Linked DNA regions of Homo sapiens: region 1 is linked to region 2. Evidence: fine-mapped expression QTL. Tissue or cell type: whole blood. Region 2 holds a variant in brackets; the other region holds the start of a gene. All regions are shown on one strand. Distances are from middle to middle.

Evidence for each region. PIP is the estimated chance that this variant, and not a neighbour inherited with it, causes the effect.
Region 1: it holds the start of DAB2IP, and the variant in region 2 is fine-mapped to the expression of DAB2IP in whole blood (INTERVAL, PIP 0.90).

What each region holds. Positions count from the first base shown.
Region 1 is chr9:121,647,812-121,655,918 of GRCh38, reverse strand. It overlaps DAB2IP (DAB2 interacting protein), which reads right to left and starts at 4,285. Exons shown (of 16, transcript NM_001395010.1): 1 at 4,020-4,285. The coding sequence starts at 4,143. RefSeq lists enhancers at 750-1,249, 5,708-6,543.
Region 2 is chr9:121,802,058-121,810,164 of GRCh38, reverse strand. No RefSeq gene overlaps it. Among named protein-coding and RNA genes, the nearest start is that of DAB2IP, 150 kb to the right of the region's middle. The variant G/A (reference allele first, on the strand shown) is at 4,215.

The sequences.
Region 1 (8,107 bases), 150 kb after region 2:
TCCTCTCCCACCACGCGGGCAAGATACAGAGGCATGCAAGAGGGGTGTGTACAGGCACGGAGGAGGACCTGACCATCTCAAGAGAAAAACATCTGCAAAACCCCCAGCTCCCAGCCAGGGCCTGGCAGGTGGCTGGACCCCTAGAAAAACTCAGATGAAAACATGAACAACATAATCAAAACCCCTCATGGCTATGGGTATAGGCATTCCAAGAGGCAGGAGAGCAAGATTAACCCCCCTCGACAGATGGGGAAACTGAGGCCCTATGATGTGCCCAGTCATGCAACCAGTCCGCGGCTGAGCTGGAACTACAGCCCCTGCCTCCCACTAACCACTGCTCTGTCCCCTAGAAAGAGACTTGTGCCCTAGTGCACCCCAACAAGCTGGCCTCCCCAACAGACTGGGGGCTTGGCAAGGGCTGGGAGCACATGTGATTCATCTCCATGTGCCCCTGCACCCAAGCTGAAGCCCAGCACATAGTAGGTGCTTAAGAGGAGCTGACTGGCTGAATGAATGGGTCAGAACTTTATCCAGGGCTAGAGGAAAATTTCTGTTTCTCCTAGCAGCCCTGGGGAAACACAGGGGTCAGAGACAAAACTTTTCTTGATTTTGGTGTGACTAGGTGGGGAGGCACCTTGCTGATGATACCCTTCTGGGGAAAGGATCCCCCCAAATCCATGGGACATGCCCAGCCTTCAAGTGGAGTTAGGGACACAGTGGGAAAATGCAAATGGCCCTCACCCTCCGAAGGTCACTGTTTCTACCCCACCTCCAGCTACCCTCCAGCTTCGTGCTCTACCCCCCACCACAGCAGGTCTCACTCTGCCCATCCTTCAGATGGGGAAACTGAAGCCCAGAAAAGGGAAGAACCTAAGTCCCTTATTGGTCAAACTAGGGAGACTGCAGATACTGTCCCTCACTCACAGCCCTACCAGGGACAAAGCCCTGCTCCCTTCCCCCAGCCTGGCCACCTGCAGAACCTGGCAGCAACCAACTCTTCCTTGCATTTTTCTGTTTCTGAACAAATACACAGCCTGAGTTCTTGGTCATTTTCCTTCCCTGCTAGTGCCAGAGGCCAGAAAGGGTGTGGGGGCAAGAGTCTGATCCAGGCTGAGATGCTAGGCACCACCCACTCCTCTGAGGTCCGATGCTACCACACCATGGGACCAAGCCCCCATGTGGATGGGGAGGCTGAAGTTCAAGGTCAGAAGGGACTGGCTCAAAGGCCACAGGGTGGCTTCCTCAGCCTGAGTTTCTCCCTGGGTGGGGCCCTGCCCTCAGGTGGTGGTTGTGGCTCTGGGGTAGAGTCAGGCGTCTGAGGCTTTAGTGGAGGGAGGGCAATGGCTGCCCTAGCTGCCTCCCACCAAGGAGGAGGAGGACAGGGTGCCTCCAGCCTCCACCCTACACCCTGGCTGCAGCTGTAACTAACTCCTCATCACTCCAGGCCTTCTTTTTTTAAAAAAACAAACAAACAAACAAACAAAAACAATATTGAGACAGGGTCTTGCTATGTTGCCCAGGCTGGTCTTGAACTCCTGGGCTCAAGGATTCCTCCTGCCTTGGCCTCCCAAAGTTCAAGGCCCTTTATCAAATCCAAACTACTGTTGCCTGCTCTTCCCCACCCACTCACCCAGCCCCCTTCCCAATCCACTCCCCTCCCCAAACCCAGGAGGAACTCTATTCTCAATACCCAAGCCGTTTTCCTTCTCCCTGACTGCGCAGTCTGTTCATTCTGTCCAGAGAGAAGACAGTAGCTCACCCTCAGCTGCAGCCTTAGTCCCAGGCACTGGCTTCTGGCCCTCACATGACCCTGTCACTGCTAGCCCCATTGACCACACAAGGTCACTGAGGCTTGGAGAGGTAACTGGCTGTAGAATAGTTGTGTGCACAGCTGAGACTTGAACCCAGATCTGACTCAATTACTCCCTCTGCGAAGGGAAACCCTATCCATTTTGTGAGATCCCATCCAAATGTCACCTCCTCTGTGAAGCTCTCCCTGATCTCCCCAGATATAACTTCTGTTCAGAGACAGTCTCCTCCCCGCTCTGCAGGCCGTGAGCTCCTTCAAGCTGGGACACAAGCAGTGATCCTGTGTATGTGGGGTCTGGGAGCTGGGGCTCAGGTGACAGCCCCTGACACATTGATTATCCCCTGCCTGGTCAGCTGAGCAGGAGGTCAGCTGAACAGGAGCGAGACTCCCATTACAGTCAGGGATGGAACTGGGCTGAGGTGAGAAGAGGAAAAGGTCACACAGGGCATTTCTGAGGCAAAGGAGGGGCGGGTGGGTGAGGTGACGTGAGGTGGGTGCAGAAGGAGAGGCCCCAGGGTGGTCTGAACAGTACTGGGCATTTTCAAAGCTCCCATTTCTCAGTTTCTTCACTGAATCCTCCACATACGGCAGGTCCATTTTACAACCAGGAAAACTAAGCTCAGAAAGGGGAAATGACTTGCCCAAAGTCACAAAGCTTGAGCCCAGATTCCCGGTCTCCCAGACCAAGTCCAGGGGAAGGGAGTAAGTACAGAATTAACAGTACTAAGCCTTTCTCCAGGTCTTAGCAAGTACAGAATTAAATAGAAGGACAGAGATAGAAGAACCAAAACCTGAACCACTGAGATAAAGCCTTCCCCAGGTCTTTAGTACTCCCTCCAAGGAGTACTAAAGGCTTAGTACTCCCTCCAAGGAGTACTAAAGGCTTAGTACTCCCTCCAAGGAGTACTAAAGGCTTAGTACTCCCTCCAAGGAGTACTAAAGGCTTAGTACTGTTAATTCTGTACTTACTAAGTAACTTAGTACTGTTAATTCTGTACTTACTAAGACTTCAGGAAAGGCAGGAGTGGGGGGATTGCAGGCTTTGAGAGACCCTTGAGGACTGAACTACCAGCACACACCTGTGCACACACTTAGCCTCAGCTTGAACCCTTCTGTGCACAGGGAACTCACTACTTCCTGAGGAAGCCCTGGACTGCACAGTGCTACTCAGACCTGACTGTGGGAAAAGTCTTCCCCATTCTGGTGGAAGCAACCGAACACTACCTGCCTGCTTCATTTACCCTCACACCGACAAGAAAACTGAAGTTCAGAGGCAGCTCAGCCCAGGTCACACAACGGCAGCCTGCAGGGTGGGAATGTGGCCCCTCTTGGTCTACCAGATTCCCTGCATGGCATTTGTTGGCACAGGGCCCGGCTTCCCACTTTCAAGATAACCTGATGGTGTCAACTCGGCCCAGGTCCCTGCTAAGGCGCCGTCTTTCTCCTCCCTTCCACCCCACGGGCACCCTCGGTGGGCCTGAACCTCTGCCTAGGACTCCAGCCTCCCCAGAGCCCCTTTGAAGGCCTCCTCCTCCCAGGGGCTTCCCTCCCTCCTACTCAGCCAGGGAAGGAAGTCCCGGCCACCACCCGCCCAAACGCAGCCCCCGGGATCACACGCATTTCCAGCCGAGGATCCTGTTACTGGAAAAAGAAAATGCTGCTCGCACCTCCCCCTCCGTCTCGTCCTGCCTCCTGAGCTTGATGGAGAGAAACTTTGCAAAGGAGCTGGCGCCCACCCGCTCGAGGGGTCACGGTTCCTTCCCTGAGGTCCACCCACTTGTCCTAGCACCCAAGAGGTGGGGAGCCCGTTAAGTTCCTGGAAAGGGAAGAAAGAAGTCCGCGGCCTGGGCTGGGAAGGCAAGGTGTGGGAAAGCTCAGATCCACCCTGGGTTACTTTATTGCCCGGCTGCTGAGTAAACTGAGGCACAGTGGGGTAGGAGGTCTGATCTGAGATGCGGAGAAAGATTCCAGGCTCCCCTCTCCCTGTCCCTGGCTTAAGAGGAGACCCTAGAGCCTCGGCTTCCCCCGGCGAGAGGAGGACTAAGCAGAAGCTGGGGGAATGGGGGGTCCGGCAGACTCAGGAAGGGGCGGATGAGGAAACCCCCGGCAAATGGCTGGAAGGAGGATCCCGGTCCCTAGCATCCCAGGGCATCAGGTGGCTTAGTGGCCTTAGGAGGGTCTAGGGGTCAGGGGTCGGGGTGGCGCCTACCCCTGGCAGGCCGGGTCCGGCTGCGGGAGCGGCTCCTCTGTCGCTGCAGCCGGGGCCGCCTCAGCAGCCGGTAGTAGTAGGAGGACCTCCCGGTGCTCTTCCTGGCGCTGCCGCCCGCGGACATGCTGCCGCCCGCCGGGCACCGGGCCGGGCCTGGGCGCGCTCACACGGGCCCCATCGGCCGCTCCGGACAGCCCGGCGGGCGCCCACGCGTTCTCCCGCGCTCGCCCGAGCGGCCGCCGAGGCCCTGGCTGCCCCACAAAGTCGCTCAAACTCCTCCTCCGCCTCCTGCCCCCTCCCGCTCCCCGAGCAGCCGGCCCCGCGGCGGGGGCTGGGGACCCGGAGGCCGGGCTGGCACCGGCCCGGAAAGTCAGTGCGGGAGAAATCCCGGCCTGGAATCGGCGGGGCGAGGCGGCCCGGAGTTTCCCCGGGACCCCAGACGGGTCGTCCCGAGGGTTCTGGCTCCCACCCCCGCCCCCGAGGGTTCGACCGTCGACCTGAGGGCGCACCAGGCACCCAATCCCGCCAGCGCGGGTAGACGGTGCACACCTGCTTGTGCGCTCTCCGGAGCCCGGGGTAGGACGCATGCTTGGGGACGGTCACCTTCAATTAGGGTCCGTTCCTGCCCCAGGCTCGCTGGGCTGAGAAACGACCCTCACTGCTCCGCAGGCCCTGGCCCAGCCAGGTTGAAAGACTCCCCTGTGATGCAGGATACTTGCCTCTTCTTTACGTTTTAAAGGTTGTCCCGTCTGATACACGTATCATTTTTATGTAATTAAAATTACGGTGTCTGTTTCAAGCACTCAAAGCACTGAAGGCAGGGCAGAACAATCCCTACCCTACCGTAGGCACCAGAAACTCAGGGTGGCAGAAGGAAAGGTACCAACTCCCTCTATTGCATTGGCTGAAAAACTTTCTCCAAGTCACTCCTCAGCTCAAGAGCTTTCCGTGGCTCCCCAGAGCACAATGGCAATACGTCTAAACATCCTTGTTATTTGGACCCCAAATAATCTTGCCCCAACCAAAGTCCCCTCCAGCCTCACCTCTGCTCCCCCTAATTCTCACTTCTCTTTGCTGTGCTGCCAGCAGGGACTGCCTTCTTGGCTATTTTCTCCACCCGACCAAAGTCCACCCTTTCAGGACCCAGCTCCTCCACCCTTCCCTAACCATGGCCCACAGTGATCTCTCTCTCTCCCCGCCCCTTATCTCTTTAGCAATATTCGTCGTTTAAATTATTAAGACACCTGCCTGAGCTGCCTCCTTTGAAGTACAGAGGGGGAAACTGAGGCCTTGGCAAGGAGGTCTTGCCTCAGTCACATGGAAAGTGGCAGAGGCAAGTGGTCTTAGCCTGGGGCTCTCAACATTCAGACTTAGGGGTGGGGGGTGTGAGTCACCGCAAGTGCCTGAGGCCGGCTAGGGGATCTTCCTCCAGAACAGTGGGGAAGGTGGGGCCCTGGAGTGGGCGGGGCCGTCTGGGCAGAAATCCAGGCCGGGTTTTGCACCTCACAGGGGAAGCCCCCTCCCTAGCGCTCTCAGCCAGCGGGGAGGGTCCCTAGTCCTGCGGAGCCTGTCTCACAGCTGGAAGCCAGGCGCCTTCCCTGACCAGGGGGGAGGGGCAGGAGGGGTGTTACTCCAGCAAACTCAGTCTGAGGAGTCCAGAGCTATCAGCTGCCCTGGTCCCCTCTTCCCTGAATACTGGCCAATCCCACAGGAAGATGGAAAACCAGGGTGCCCAAGAGGACACCCTTAGCCTCCTTTGGGTTAGGCCAGGGGTGCCCAATCTTTTGGCTTCCCTGGGCCACACTGGAAGAAGAAGAATTGTCAGGCCACACATAAAATATACTCACACTAACCATAGCTGATGAGCTAAAACAAACAAACAAACAAAAAAACCACACACACAAAAAAACCTCATCATGCTTTAAGAAAGTTTATGAATTTGTGTTGGGCAGCATTCAAAGCCATCCTGGGCCACATGCAGCCGGTAGGCTGCAGGTCAGACAAGCTTGGAGGCATTGCCCTATCTCCTTTCAACAGCAGACATGGTGCAGGAACGTCTCTAAAAAGAAGCCCCTGGACAGAGCGCACACACAGTCACTCAGTCCCCAGGCAAGCTGGGGGCCTTGTTAGCATGCATCCTCCTCTGGCCAAACTGCCAGAACCCAGTTCAGTGCCTCCTCACGTAGGTGGGGTTCTGAGCACCACCTGTCCACATCTTGGCACTTCCAGGCATGACTAACCTCCGTAGCCAGGTCCACGGGTTCTGGGGGTGAGGGACTCCCAGGAAGTCCTACTCAGGACGGGGGCAACGGTCCTGCTCCCAGGGCCTGAGTTCATCTGGCCCATTTTGTTTCCCAAAGCAGGAACCCTCTGATCAGCCAGGTTCCAGCCCTCCCTGGAGGGGACGGGAGGCTCACAATCAACTCACTGTTATCAGTGGTGTGGGCAAGTGGTCTTAGCCTGGGCCCCCAACAGGAAGTCTGAGGAGTGTGTGTGGAGGGGAGAGGGGGCAGTAACTTGGAACTCAGGACCTCATCTGTAAGCACAGCTGGGCTCCAAAGGTCTGGCATGGTCTCCCCACTTCAGCTTTTCAAGTCCTTCTCTGTGCCTTAGTTTCCCTACCTATAGGGAGAACGTATGGACCCCCAATCCATCTGCCTTGTGGAGGAAGGAGGGTCAGCTAGTGAAATGGAGGAAGCTTGTGCATTTCTACCCTTGGGATGGGAATGGGCATCGCCAACCAGCTGAGCCGAGCATCTCCACGGGCCTGGGGCAGGTACTCTCCGGGTACTGAGTGGGAAGGGGGCAGGGCAGGAGCTAGGAGAGAAAGAGCCCAGGCTCCTTTTCCTTCTTCCTGGCCCAGGAACAGGGCAGTTAAAGGCCGCTCCCTGTACAGCCCAGCAGGGGACCTGGAATCAATCCTGCTGGGAAACTGGCCCCCCATCTGCTCCCACCTCCCGCCGGCGCCCCTGTGGCTTTCTCTCTCTGAACAGGAGAAGCCCTGCTTCCAGTGCCCACCACCACCATTGCTACCACTGCTTCCTGTGACAGACCAACAGATCGGACTTTCCAGCCCTGCCAACATGAGAGCCTCAGTACCTACAGGGCTAAAGGTCTGGTCTTATTCTCCCACCTCCAGAGGGGCTCCTGAATAGGCCCAGCTCCCACCTCTCCCATGTGCTGCTTTAGCGGGGACAGGGCTGCAGCCCCCAAATCACCTTCACTCAGTGAACAGGCATATTTCTGAGTTTCCCTCAAGACGCTCAATTCAGTGGGTCTGGATGGGGCCTGGAAACATGCAAGTTTAGTAAGTAGGGGTGTGGGTACTAGGACTGGCTAAATCAGATCTGACCTAACCCCACCACCAGCACCTTTACCCTCCCCTCAAAAGCCTCCCAAGGCGAACTCTCAGAGACCAAGCTGTGTCAAAAAGCGACCACCTCCCGCTTGCACCCCAACCCATTTCAGCCCCCTTGGTCATCCTCCAGACACTCTTTCCCACCACCAGTCTTCGCCCTGTTGGTGGGACCTGGACCGCTGCCACCAAGGTCTTCCCTCTGCACCCACCTGGTGCATTCCTGCTTACCCTTCAGGACCCAGCTCAAGCATCCCCTCAGTTTTTTATTTTTTAAATTTTTTATTTCCATAGGTTTTTGGGGAACAGTTGGCATTTGGTTACATGAGTAAGTTCTTCAGTGGTGATTTGTGAGATTTTGGTGCACCCATATCCCGAGCAGTAACTTGGGATACACTAAACCCAATTTGTAGTCTTTTATCCTTCACCCCCTTTCCACCCGTTCCCTGAGTCCCCAAAGTCCATTGTGTCATTTTTCTGCCTTTGCATCCTCATAGCTTAGCTCCCACTTATGAGTGAGAATATATGATGTTTGGTTTTCCTTTCCTGAGTTACTTCACTTAGAATAATATTCTCCAATTCCCATCCAGGTTTCTGGGAATGCCATTAATTCATTCCTTTGTATGGCGGAGTAGTATTCCATCATATATATACATATATACCCGTATATATATATAATACGTATATGTATGTATATATATAATATATATGTATATGTATGTATATATATGTG
Region 2 (8,107 bases):
TTCTTCACCCATTCTTCTACTGGTCCTTTTCTTGTTGATTTGTAGCATCTTTGCAGATGAAAAGAATTAGCCTTTTGCCATCGTTTTTAAAAACATGTATTCTACATGGGCCATTTTCTGGTGGCCAACTGTCTCTCCACCTGCAGCCCGTTCTCCACAGGCTGCCAGAGTAGCCTTTCTGGGATGCCAAACTGATCGTGTCACCCCCACACAGATAGAAAACAGCTTCCCGTCACCGGGGTTCAGCTCGACTCCTCACCTGGTTTGGGGGGTCTTTTCCATTTGGGGCCCAGCCTCCTCCCTCCCCCACCAACAAGACCAACCTCCCTCCCCAACCAACAGGACCACCACATGCAGCCGTGAAGGCTGCACTCTGCACAGAGGACAGGGACACACGGATAACCTGAGTTGCGCCCCTACAGGGACCCACCAGGCAGCCCTGCCCAGCTCTTGTGAACTCCTTCATGGCTCCTCTCTCTTTTCGCCACTCCCCAGATGCCCCTTGCTCTGTCATCTGGCCAGCACTGCATCCGGGTCCTTCTTCTGCCCGTAATGCCCCTCCCCATGTGGGCTTGTTGGTGTACACCACCTCCGCTCTTGCAAGTGGTTCCCCCACCCCTTGGTGTGTCTCTTTAAGCCACTTCATGGTGACTCTCTACCAGGCACACCCCAGAAAGGGCTGTGCCCCCTCATATCTGGATCCCACCCCAGCCAGGGCCTGGCGCAGAAGGGGCCCTCAGGACCTGCATGTAGGAGGAATAAGGGAGGGAGGGACCGAAGGCCCCACTGATGGCCGAGCTCAGCCAGCACAGCAGAGCGGGGAAGGCCTCAGCCTAATTTAAAGTCACGCATTTACCCAATAGGCTGCTCTTTCATATAAATATCCATTAAACACTTTGTAAAATGCAAATTTGAAAAAATGCAGCTGACCTGCCCTTCCCAGGTAATTATGGCACGCCTCTCGAGTCTGCAGTGGAGACCTTTTTATTTGGAAGGTCTAGCGCGCTTTTCAGATTATCAATTGAGGCCTTTCCAGAGAGCAGGTTCCCTGCCCGCCCCTGACCCCTCACAGAGGGGCATCCTAGGAGGACCTTGGTGGGCACCAACACCTCTGCCATCAGGATCTCCCAGGGGCTCAGGGCCCCAGGACCCTGGTGTGGGCACAACCAGATGTGGCCCCTGCCTGCCCAGAGCCAAAGGGCCAGGGAAACTTGCTGATGGACAGGCAGGGCTCAACTACCAGCAGAGGGAAGGGCCAGGACCTGGGGCAGGGGGAGGCTGGCAGGAGAAGAGCCAGGCCCCACAGGCCCCGTTGCAAATTTTCTCTTTGCCATTGGAGAGTGCACAGAAGATGACACTATTGGGTTTGTGTTTTTAAAGGTAACCAAGCTTACAATTTGGATGGGGCAAGCGAGGACATGGAGGGGTGGGCTGGGAGTGGGTGCAGGGCTCCAGGCGGGAGGGCTGGCAGCTCCAACTTGGCATGGCCCTGGAGATGAAGGGCACACACTCAAGGGGTTTTAAGCAGGCCAGGTTGACAGCACTTCTCACAGTGGCTGTTCAATTGCCATCTCACCTCCCTGCTGGATTGAAACTCCCTGAGGGCAGAGCCTAGTCATTTGTGTTGGAAGCTGCATCAGTGCATCTAGAACATGGCTCAGCACACAAAAGGTGGAGTGTTCTGGGAATGAATGAATGACAGGTGAGAGGGAATAATGGATGGATGGATGGATGGATGGATGGATGGATGGATGGATGGATGGATTTAACAGATGGGGAAACTGATGCTGTGGGTGGGGTAGGGGGAGGTGAGTCGCCCAGGTGGGACATCATGTTCCCAGTGCACAGCAGACTCAGCAGTAGGGCCAGGAGGGAGGCTCTGGGGTAGTGTGGAATCCCCGGCTCCTCCGCCCTTGCTCACGCACACCTGTTTTCATAACTTGTCATTACCCCACAAACCCACAGGCAGGAGCGCTGTCCCAATAAATAAATCTGGGCCACTTTTCAGCATCGTTTAACGTCCCCAGGAAGGCTGGGTCACGTGGCGTCCAGCCGCAGGCCATTAGCTGACAGGCTGAAGCATATCATATTGAATTCCACGGCCCGCAGAGCCCGCGAGCCCCCGTGCTGCTCTGAAATCTGTGCGGATTTCTCAGAATGCAATTGTGCTGCTTATTTCCTATAATGAACATGTTGCCCCCTCCCCTTGCCAGGACTATTTTCTCAAACCTCCAGGGAGACAGGAGTGGGAGGATCTTGAGCTTACTCCCTGCTGCAGCTTGAGAGGTGCCCGGTGCTGTGGGCTGTACTTTGGTGCAATTTGCAGAGATGGTCTCAAGTCATTGTACTGTCTTCCAGCCTCTACCCCTGTCGTCTGCCCTGTGTCTCCCTGCCACCCTGCCCCTGTCCTCCCGTCCCCTGTCCCTTGCCCCACCACGCTGCCCCCTGCTATGGCAGGGCTATAGATGGGCCAGCCAGGAGGGACTCAACCCCGGAAGCCCACAGCCTGGCCACATTGCAGCCAGCTGACTCTGCCGCACCTCCTGGAAGACACAGGCCTTGGCTTCTGCCTACTGCGGGTGACACACCACACCTACCACGCCTCTTCACAAACTTAAATGGGACAGATGCCCACGCTGGTATACAAACCACACCTTGACAGAACCACATGCAGAAACACATCCGTACATACCCACTCGCATCCCAAGGTAGAGGCTATGCCTTCCCACACCAACTCACAACACCTTAATCACAGCTAGCATACCTGATACACATTCACACACACATCCATACACATACCCCCTCACACATATCCGCACATACACTCAGGCACATATACACACACACAAACACCCCCACACAAGCACACATCCACACACATATCCACACACACACCCTCACACACATCCACACGTACACTCACATCCACACACCCACACACAAGCATACACACAAAGAGTACACACATACACATATACACACATCCACACACACACCCTCACACACATCCACACACACACCCTCACACACATCCACCTATACATTTATACACATATCCACATCCACATACCCATACAAACATACACACACAAAGCACACACACACACATCCACATATACACACATCCACACAAACACCCACACACAAGCACACACACAAGCACACACATCCACATATACACACACTCTCACACACATCCACAATTCATTCATACACATATACCCCCACACACACAGAGCACACACACACCTAAACACCCACACACAAGTACACCTACACACACAAACACACACATCCACATACACATCCACACACACACACAATCCACATGGACACTGATATCCACACACCCACACACACAAAGAGCACACACATACACATATACACACATCCACACAAACACCCACACACAAGCACACACACATACAGCACATGCGCATCCACATATGCACACACATCCCCACACACAGAAACCCTCACACATCCACATATACACATCCACACACACATCCCCCCTCACACATGTACACACATACACTCATATGTATATACACACAAATCCACACACACACATCCACACACATAAACACCCACACACACACATATACTCATACACATGCACATACATCCACACACATTTCTACATGCATTTTGAATTTCCAAGCAGCAGGTAAGCTTTTTTCAATGCAAAGCTTTTTATGCTTATTTTATTCTATTACAATTTTATATATAATTCAATCTACTTTTGGCCTCTCATCTTTTCTCTTTATTTCTAATTGACACAATAATTAATAATATTTATACAGTCTGATATTTCCACAGGTGTATAATGTAATAATCAAATCAGGGAAATTTACACAGCCATCATCTCCAACGTTTATCATTTCTTTGTGTTGGGAGCACACAAAATCCTCTCTTCTAGCTATTTGAAAATATAGAATAAATACTTGTTAACTATATAAATTACTGTCGACTGTGGTCACCCTGTTATGCTATCAAATATTAGGCCTTATTCATTCTTTCTAACTATATTTTTGTACCCATTAATTATCCCCACTTGCCCCGTCCACCCTCACCCTCAACACCCTTCCCAGCCTCTGGTAACCGTCATTCTACTTTTTATCTTCATGAGTTCAACTGTTTTAACTCTTAGCTCCCACAAATGAGTGAGAACATGCAAAGTTTGTCTTTCCGTGCCTGGCTTATTTCATCTA[G/A]CATAATGACCTCCAGTTCCATCCATGACATCCAGTCACCCTACAGTGAGCACTAGAACTCATTCCTCCTATCTAGCTGTAATTTTGTATTTGTCAACCATCCTCTCCCTATCCTCCCTTCCTCCTCCCCTGCCCAGGCTCTGGTTACCACTATTCAACTTTCTATCTCTATGATATCAATTTATTTAGCTTCCACATATGAGTGAGAACACACATTACTACTATTTGTCTTTCTGTGCCTGGTTTATTTCACTTAATGTAACTTCCTCCAGGTTCATCTGTGTTGCCAAAAATTATAGGATTTCATTTTTTTATGGCCGAATGGTGTTCCATTGTATATATGTATATGTATATATGTGTGTGTGTGTGTGTATATATATATACACACACCATATTTTCCTTATCCATTCATCTGTTGATGAGATTTCTAAGCAGCAGGTAAGCTCTTGTTATTAATTCCCACTTTCATTGCTCTGTGGTTAAGAAATATGGCCTTTCCTTTATTGAGCTTACCACAGGCCAAGCATCATGTTAGGTGATAATTATACTAGGTTGAATAAAATTTGAGCCCCACAGCCTAATAACAGAGAGCATAAATAAATCTACATTTACAATCCCAGGAATATAAGGATGGTTCAACATATGTAAATCAATGTAATATATTGTATCTTCAGAATGAAGGACAAAAACCATATAATCATTTCAATTGATGCTGAGAAATCATTTAATAAATTCAACATCCTTTCATGATAAAAACTCTCAAAAAACTGGGAACATACTCCAACACAATAGAAGTCATATATGACAGACCCACAGCTAGTATCATACTGAATGAGGAAAAACTGAAAGCCTTTCCTGTAAGATCTGGAACAAGACAAGGATGTCCACTGTCACCATTGTTATTCAACATAGCACTGGAAATCCTAGCCAGAGCAATAAGACAAGAGAAAGAAATAAAGAGCATCCAAACTGGAAAGGAAAAAGTCACATTATCCTTGTTTACAGATTATATGATTGTATATTTGAAAAAAACTAAGCAGTTCAAAAAACTATTAGAACTGATAAACAAATTCAGTAACATTGCAGGATACAAAATCAACATACAAAAATAAGTAGCATTTCTGTATGTCAACAGAACAGCCTCATAAAGAAATCAAGAAAGCAATCCCATTTACAACAGCTACAAATCAAAGAAAATACCACCAGTAATCCGATTTACAATGGCTACAAATCAAATAAAATACCATCAGAGAAATACAAATCAAAACTGCAATGATATATAATCTCACCCCAGTTTAAATGGCCTTCATCCAAAAGACAGGAAATAACAAATGCTGGCAAGGATGTGGAGAGAAAAGGGAACCCTCATACACTGTTGGTAGGAATGTAAATTAGTACAACCAGTATGGAGAACAGTAAGGAGGGTCCTCAGAAAGCTAAAAGTAGAACTATCATACGATGCAGCAATCCCACTGCTGGGTACGTACCCAAAAGAAAGGAAACAGGTATATCAAAGCAATATCTGCCCTCCCATGTTTATTGCAACATGGCTATTCACAATAGCCAGGATTTGGAATCAATCTAAGTGCCCATCAGCAGATGAATGGATAAAGAAAATGTGGTACATACACACAATGGAATACTATTCAGCCATAAAAAAGAATGAGATCCTGTCATTTGCAACAACATTGATGGAACTGGAGGTCATTATGTTAAATGAAATAAGCCAGGCACGGAAAGACAAACTTTGCATGTTCTCACTCATTTGTGGGAGCTAAGAGTTAAAACAGTTGAACTCATGAAGATAAAAAGTAGAATGACGATTAGCAGAGGCTGGGAAGGGTGTTGAGGGTGAGGGTGGACGGGGCAAGTGGGGATAATTAATGGGTACAAAAATATAGTTAGAAAGAATGAATAAGACCTAATATTTGATAGCGTAACAGGGTGACCACAGTTGACAGTAACTTTTTGTACATTTAAAAATAACTAGGCCTGGTGCAGTGGCTCACACCTGTAATCCTAGCACTTGGGGAGGCCGAGGTAGATGGATCACCTGAGGTCAGGAGTTCGAGATCAGCCTGGCCAACATGGTGAAACCCTGTCTCTACTAAAAATACTAAAATTAGCCGGGCGTGGTGGCATGTGCCTGTACTCCTAGCTACTCAGGAGGCTGAGGCAGAAGAATCTCTGGAAGCTGGGAGGCAAAAGCTGCAGTGAACCGAGATTGCGCCACTGCACTCCTGGGTGACAGAGCAGGATTCCGTCTTAAAACAAAACAAAACAAAACAAAACAAAACAAAACAAAAGACCCTAAACTAAAAGAGTATAATTGGAATGTTTGTAACACAAATAAGTGAGAAATGCTTGAAGTGATGGATACCCACCACCCCCAAAAAAAGTTTGCGATGCAATGTGACATGCAGTGGCAGAGGGAACCCCAGCCCCTATATGTTCTTTAACAAATCTCATATATTTTTCTCTATTTAGGTTGATTCCTTTTGTGTTTCTATTACCTAAACATTCCTGGACCAAAAAATATAGATATTTGTTATTTTTATTTGCTTTTCTTGAATTATTACCATGAATGAGATATTCCCATTTATTTATTGTCCCTTTAATTTCCAATTATTTCTCTTTTGCCTTATTCTTGGATGCTTCAAGCCGATGTTCTAGAATGGATCACTGATTTGACTTTTCAGCACACACATTCTGTTGTCCACCATCAGCAATGACATTCTTTCCTTCCAAGTTCTTGTTTTCAGCCCGTTCCTTTCTCCTAGCAGCACACTCCTGTTTATTGAGGAAACATCACTTGAACCACTCCAGCATTTATTTAAGACCCATTAAGAGGGTTCTGCATCTCCGACATGCTCTGATGGGGAGCAAAGCAAGACTCACCATTGCCCTGTGTTGCAGGTTAGCGGGCTCATCTATTCCTGTAGGGTGCCCTGCTCGGTGCAGGGAGCAGGGAGCAGCCCCACCTCTCCCTCCTGTGGGTTGCTTTCTCCTCTGATGAGCATTTGCAGGTTCTTCCTGATTTGCCTGATGCAGGAGCTTGCTTCCCGGGGGTGCCTGTTAAACTTCAGATTCCATGGAATTGGAGGTACAGATGCAAACCCATGATTTGTAGAATGTGTATATGCACTTTTGTGTGCACGTGGATGTGTATATGCACATATATGTATTTATTTCCTAGTTCTGTCTGCTGACAAGGTCAAGAAGAAAAGCCATTCTACTAGCTCGCAGATCTTGGTTCTTAATACCATTACCCAGGGTTTCTCGGAGAAATGACTAATTTGAGAGCTTGGGCAGGGTAGGTACATTGTGAGCCTGGGACGTTTTGTTACACCAGAAAATAAGGAATGATCAAAAGCACTTTTGGGGGAAATGTCAGCAGCTTAAAGGGGCTGCCGGTGGCAAAATCTAGGACTATTTGAGCACCAAAATAATAAAGTAATGAAATATAAACCCTTAAAAATGGAAATTTCTGAATCTATACCAATAGTAAATAGATTTATCAATATGTGGGGGAGAAGGAGGACCTATGCTGACGAGAGAATTCTGAGAGTCAACCGGCGAAGTGGAGAGATTGTTAGAGTTGGAAAATCATCTTTTGCAACTATCCTAGTAAAGATGGGATCAATTAAGAATCATTCATGGTTGCTAAATCTAGGGGAACATTCTGATGAGGAACAGAATGTTTTCATGGTCTCAAAGTGTCTCCCCACAGACTGCTTATTAGTTGCAAAGAAGATCAAAAAACTCCAGTAATTATACAGTGAAGAAATTGGACAACGCCTTGATCGAGTGATCAAAATTAACATCACCAAGGAAGGACAGATGGCTGTCTTGTGCCTCCAGATGTGCTCCTCTGAGAAGGACTCAATACGCTC